2 separate regions of the Homo sapiens genome follow, and region 2 is linked to region 1. A link means that fine-mapping ties the variant in region 1 to the plasma level of a protein whose gene starts in the linked region. Region 1 holds a variant in brackets. A gene starts in the other region. All regions are shown on their reverse strands.

Region 1 (2,902 bases):
GAGACAGCAATAGGAATTTTGTGGCATAAAGCAGTTGTTTCAAGCTCAGAGTATAAGTGGCTTTTATAACATTATTGATTGTTTTGTTTCTTTGGTAAAAATTATGCCTAGATGATAAAAATAACTGCCTGACCACACAATAGATTTTTTTTCCTTTTTTTTTTTTTTTTTTTAAACAATTGACATTCAAGCCATGTCAGTTATTTTTGTTTCTAAGATTTCTATTAAATAAAAGGCAGATCCTCTTTAGGTTCCTAGATCCTTTAGAGGTTGTTGCCACGGCTCACCTGGAATTTTTCAGCCTTTTCGGAACCCATGCCTGCACAGATACAATGTTCTTTGATCATCAATGTAAATGCATAATACTATATAATAAAGCGCAACACACTCTATAAATAGAAGTTCACTCCACTTCAAAACACCTGAACGTATATGTATAAAATGTTTTTGGATCACAAGGTATTCATTAATTTTAAGTGCATTTTTCTTAAACGAAAGGGCTTTCTTCTATCTCAAGGCACATGGATATTTTAAAGAAATTTCCACTATTTGGATTTTCTTTTCCATGAGAAGTAGTTTATGAAAGTGTTTAGCCCAAGTATAGTTCCCTCTCCTTCCTGCTGGGTGAGGTACCCTCGGTATCCGCAGCTAAAGGCATTGTAAAAAATCCCTTCCTGTGGTTAAGGAGAAATATTTTCACTCCCACGTCTGTCTCTTACCAGAGACTCATTGTATAAACTTATTGAGCAGAGATTGTAAAAAGATGGGCAATTCACACATAACCAACATGGTTTCTAAAGAAAAAAACCACGCTAGACAAAACTGATGCCTTAAAAAACTTTGAGTAGGAAAGTCAAATTATTGACATAGGGAATGTTTAATGATTGTGGTTAATTTAAATTTCAGGAAAGCTTCTAAGAAAGTCATTTTATGTTCTTTTAACTGCCCAAGTGGAATTTTAAAGAAGGCCTGCAAATGACAGTGTCATGGGCATAATTACCAGAAGAGAGGCTGAGTGTCCCTGTTACATTTTTTGAAATTTATTACCTAAAAATTAACGTTTATTTCCAGTTCAGCAACAAAACACGCAAAGTAGCATATGAAAAAAAAAGTTGCTACTAAGCTTTACAAATATGGTTCTGAACTGGGGGCATGTGGCAATATCTGGAGGCATTTCTGGTTGTCACACTGGGGTGCAGGGTGCTCCTAGCATCTAGTGGGTAGAGGCCAGGGATGCTGCTGAATCTCTTACAATATAGTAAGCAACCCCACAAATTATTATTTGGCCCAAATATCGAGAGTGTTGAGAAACCCTGCTTAGAGAAACACGGTTTACAACATTCAGGGGGCCATCTGCTGCTTGTTTTTTTTTTTTTTCCCCTCCTCCTCCTCTATTCTAGATCAGCCATTACCTAGAAGCAGAAAGTTGGTCAATCCAGTGCAGCCAGGTGTGTGTTGATACGCAGAGGTGTGTTTACAATGGGCAATTGCTTGTGCTTTGCCGTGGCTTAGGAAAACAGAAAACATATGTGCACGGTGGCACGCTGGGGGAGGGAGAAGTGGAGGCAAATAATACAAAAATCTACGCTTCCTGGCTTCCTGGGGCAGAAGAACCACAGCTGCAAATGAGGCTGGACCTTTTCACCTGTGATTACATAAGGTGTGGAGAAGGCT[T/G]GGAAACACCGGTATCCGAAACTCACAGCCTGCAGCTGAGATCCAGCCCGCAGTCAGAACCTAATAAGGCCCAGCCTCCGCTTTGCTCAGGTGTGGGTGCAGCCTGGGAATTCACATCCAGGGACTGCAGGGAGGTAGGACTCTGTATTACAGCACTGTGCGCCCTTACACAAACTGGAATTTCCAGTCTCCTCAAGCCCCTTCTATTATTTTCCACTCAGACACCATGCTGTTGATGTTTTTTTATCTTTTAAAAACATTGTCCTGAAACTTCCTCCTCTTTTAGGGCTCTTTGATTTCTCAGTTGTTCACACTGAAAATCAAATGCAGTGACTCAGCCGCTGGGAATATTCCTGCTGGAGTGATGGCTCCTCCCCTCCCCAGTGCTCATCTTATTCATCCCCTCCAAATATGGACAGCAGGCAAAGCTTCAGGGAGGGGAAGCAGGAGCACAAAAGTAAATCTCCAAGGAAATAAGAAAACGGAGGTGGCCTTGAAGGGCACCCCACACAGGCCTTCCCTGTCAGTGCCCTGCGTGGCTCTGCAGGCAGTTGTGCTGGCTGTACCCACAGCTCCCACACAGTCCCTCTCAGATGGGCAGGATGGCAGCTCAGCAGTGAGGCAGGGGGGGACAGTGACACGTAGCAATTAACTTTCTTGTGCCATGCATTCACATGTTGTCTCATTAACAGTCAAAAGGGCCCAGAAATGGGTATTACTATTCTCAATATTACAGATAAGGAAAGAAGGGCTCAGGGACATTATGCACCTGCTTGGGAGTCAAGAACCGGATTCCAATCATGCTGACTTCGCAGTCCAAGCTTTTGCCACAGGCCCACACTGCTTCCCTAGGACTGTTCGGGGCCATCTGTCTCCAGGAGCTCTTGAGGGTACTGGGCTACAGAGGTCTACAGAAGGGCATCTCCCTGAGATAGTGTGGGAGGAAGCGGCTCTTTCACCTGGTACTAAAACACTGGAATCCCTGTGGCTTCTGGGGACATCCCACAACCCTATCTTTTCTTTCCTGCAAACACAGATATTTATGCACAGATGCATGTGTGCGAAGGTGCACATGTGTCTGCACACCCCACACCTTCCAACAAAGGCCGAGGGCTGAGACTTGCCCCCAGCACTTTCATGCAATCCCTTCACACTTCTCTTTTACGAGGTCTTTTAGCTGTCAAGGCTGCTCCTGAGGCTCATGTACAAAATTAAAAAAAAAAAAAAA
Region 2 (2,902 bases), not on the chromosome of region 1:
TGGTGCACACCTATAGCCCCACCTGCTTGGGAGGCTGAGGTGGGAGAATTGCTTGAGCCTGGGAGGTGGAGGCTGCAGTGAACCAAGATCACCTCACTACACTCCAGCCTGGGCGACAGAGTGAGACTGTCTCAAAAAACAAACAAACAAAAAACAAAATCAAAATCCGCTGAGTGTGGTGGCTCACACCTCTAGTCCCAGCTACTTGGGAGTCTGAGGTGGGAGGATTGCTTGAGCTCAGGAGTTCGAGACCAGCCTGGGCAACACGGCAAGACAGTGTCTTTACCACCACCAAAAAAGTAATTAACTTCAAACTGTTTTTAAAAAAGAAAACGTATTTCCCATTAAAATTACTTCCATGATGACCAACAAAACACAACCAAACTCCAGATTTATAATGCAAAAATCCCCCAAACAAAATAGTCAAGGAAAAGTGTAAGTGAACAGAAACAGTGTGAATGCGTGTGCCTGGCCACAACAGTTGGCAAAGGCACAAGTGTCTGCAGGTGCGGAGGAGGCCGCAGTAGCTCGGGGTGGCTGAGGGCTAAGACGTGCTGTCAGCCATAGGGAAGGAATTCCAGGACACTGCCTGAAGAGTCAGGTCCTCCCACCCGGGAGCCTGTTTCCCACGCGTGCCAGCTACACTTTACAAAAGAAAAGAGAGACTTTGCACCAACCTAGCTGAGAGCAGCCACGCAGCAAAACGTGAGTCACTCAGTGCTCAATGCCTGGGGTCAAAAAATAGAGGAAAGAAGAAGGACTAAAAGCAAATTAGTTTATGTATCATTTGCAAAAGTTTTCAAAATGTGCTTTGCTCTCCATCTGTCATACTTCTGCAGGTGACAGACGAGTGAGGACATTTAGAGAAACTCAGGAACAAACCAGGCCCATCCACTGGCGTCGAGGCTAGTTTCGAAGACAGAAAAACGCCCCACTTCTGTTTGCACTGTGGCTGCCTGTGGCCCGGCCGGGGAGGCGGCCGGGAGTGAGGCCTGATCGTCCCTGGCGCCTCCACCTCCCCAGGCGCAGAAGGCGCCCACGAGGACCCCCAGTGCCCGACGTTGCCACGGTCTGGGATCAGAGGCAGGGACCAGGGAGCCAGGAACTGCGCCGCCCCCGCCCCTGCCCTGGCGCGAGGGAAGCTCCCCTCACCCGGGCCCAGCCCTGCAGGGGGGCGCGTGGGGTCAGACCGCAAAGCGAAGGTGCGGGCCGGGGTGGGCCTCGCGGAGACAAAGGCCGGGCCTGCCTGCTCTCAGAGGGCCCCAGCGCCTGCCAAGAGGAAGTCCTCGAGGCCCGGGCAGGGAAGGGGGCACGGGCTTCCCAGGGCCCGCCGGCCGCAGCAGGAAGTTGGCCAGGGCACGGCCGTGAGCGGAGCGGGCAGGGCTTTCTCAGGAGCGCGGGCGAGGCCGGCGCTGGAGGGGCGAGGACCGGGTATAAGAAGCCTCGTGGCCTTGCCCGGGCAGCCGCAGGTTCCCCGCGCGCCCCGAGCCCCCGCGCCATGAAGCTCGCCGCCCTCCTGGGGCTCTGCGTGGCCCTGTCCTGCAGCTCCGGTGAGCGCCCCGGGCTCCTGGCGCGCACGGTGGGGCCTGAGGCCTCGGCGCCCGCTGCGCCCCCGCCGCTGCCTGCGCCGATCGTGGATCCCAGGTCCTTCCAGCCTCGCCCGGCGCCCAGAGGGCTCCGCCACCCCGGGGCCCCGCGCCTGCAGCCCGCGGCCTCCCCCTCTCAGGGCTGTCTCCAGCCTCGTGCCGGGATGGAGGCCGCCCCTGGCCTGGGGACACCCGTCTGCCCCCCGTCTGGAGACCGGCTCCTCATCCTGCAAGGCGCAGCGCGAGTGTCCCCTCCCTTGGGGGCCTGTCCCGGACCCTGCACAGAGTTCACCGGTCCTTCCGCCACCCTCAGGCCACTCCGGTGACCCTGCAGCGTCTCCTGGCGGGGCCGCCTCCCCAGACCCGCCTGTGTCCCGGGGGCTCGCACCTGGCAGGCCTCGGCGCAGGAGGGAGGGGCGGTCGGGGAGCCGGGCAGGGCGCGACGGTTCCTGGGCGCCTCCCGCGGGGGCGCGTCCTGGACCTGCCTTCTGGGGACCCCGGCGCGCAGGCGGTGACCCCTCCCTGTTCGCTTGCAGCTGCTGCTTTCTTAGTGGGCTCGGCCAAGCCTGTGGCCCAGCCTGTCGCTGCGCTGGAGTCGGCGGCGGAGGCCGGGGCCGGGACCCTGGCCAACCCCCTCGGCACCCTCAACCCGCTGAAGCTCCTGCTGAGCAGCCTGGGCATCCCCGTGAACCACCTCATAGAGGGCTCCCAGAAGTGTGTGGCTGAGCTGGGTCCCCAGGCCGTGGGGGCCGTGAAGGCCCTGAAGGCCCTGCTGGTAAAGTGGGCACCCCGGGTGCCCTTCCTGCGCGGGCATCCCTTCCCGGCCAGCCTCAAAACTGCACCAGAGGTGTCCCGGCCCTACGTCAGGGCTGTTTCCCGTCCTGCCCCTCCAAGCCCTGTCCCTGGGAGAAGCCCGGGTCTCCGGGTGGGAACTGGGTGGGGCGCATCCGAGCTGCAGGGGCGGGGAAGGCGGAGATGGCCCCGCGCGGGTGCGCGTCCCCCGGAGACGCCAGCGGAACCGCCCCGCTCCCGCTCCCCACAGAGCCGGCCGCTGCCGCGCCCCCGCCTGAGTTCTTGGTGGCAGGGCTGGGGGCACTCAAGCTCGGCTTCTGCTTTCCAGGGGGCCCTGACAGTGTTTGGCTGAGCCGAGACTGGAGCATCTACACCTGAGGACAAGACGCTGCCCACCCGCGAGGGCTGAAAACCCCGCCGCGGGGAGGACCGTCCATCCCCTTCCCCCGGCCCCTCTCAATAAACGTGGTTAAGAGCAGCTCGAGCCTGGTATTTTCTCATCCAAATGCTGATCCCTGTGGGGG

Which allele goes with the higher level. Positions count from the first base shown, and alleles are read on the strand shown. Strength reflects both the effect of a copy and how common the allele is.
In carriers of allele G in region 1, the plasma level of the protein whose gene starts at base 1,462 in region 2 tends to be lower than with T alone (weak association).

The links. PIP is the posterior inclusion probability: the model's chance that the variant is causal. Protein levels are from antibody-based Olink assays in UK Biobank. Linkage for the fine-mapping came from a reference panel and not from the study's own genotypes, which makes the PIPs less certain.
Region 2: SCGB3A1 starts here. The variant in region 1 is fine-mapped to the plasma level of the SCGB3A1 protein (UK Biobank, PIP above 0.99).

What each region holds. Positions count from the first base shown.
Region 1 is chr12:11,877,304-11,880,205 of GRCh38, reverse strand. All of the region lies in intron 5 of ETV6 (ETS variant transcription factor 6), which reads right to left. Among named protein-coding and RNA genes, the nearest start is that of BCL2L14, 190 kb to the left of the region's middle. RefSeq lists an enhancer at 1,172-1,969. The variant T/G (reference allele first, on the strand shown) is at 1,675.
Region 2 is chr5:180,590,059-180,592,960 of GRCh38, reverse strand. SCGB3A1 (secretoglobin family 3A member 1) reads left to right here and starts at 1,462. Exons shown (of 3, transcript NM_052863.3): 1 at 1,462-1,550; 2 at 2,123-2,361; 3 at 2,707-2,856. The coding sequence starts at 1,499. The coding sequence ends at 2,730. RefSeq lists enhancers at 1,261-1,930, 1,931-2,600, 2,601-2,902.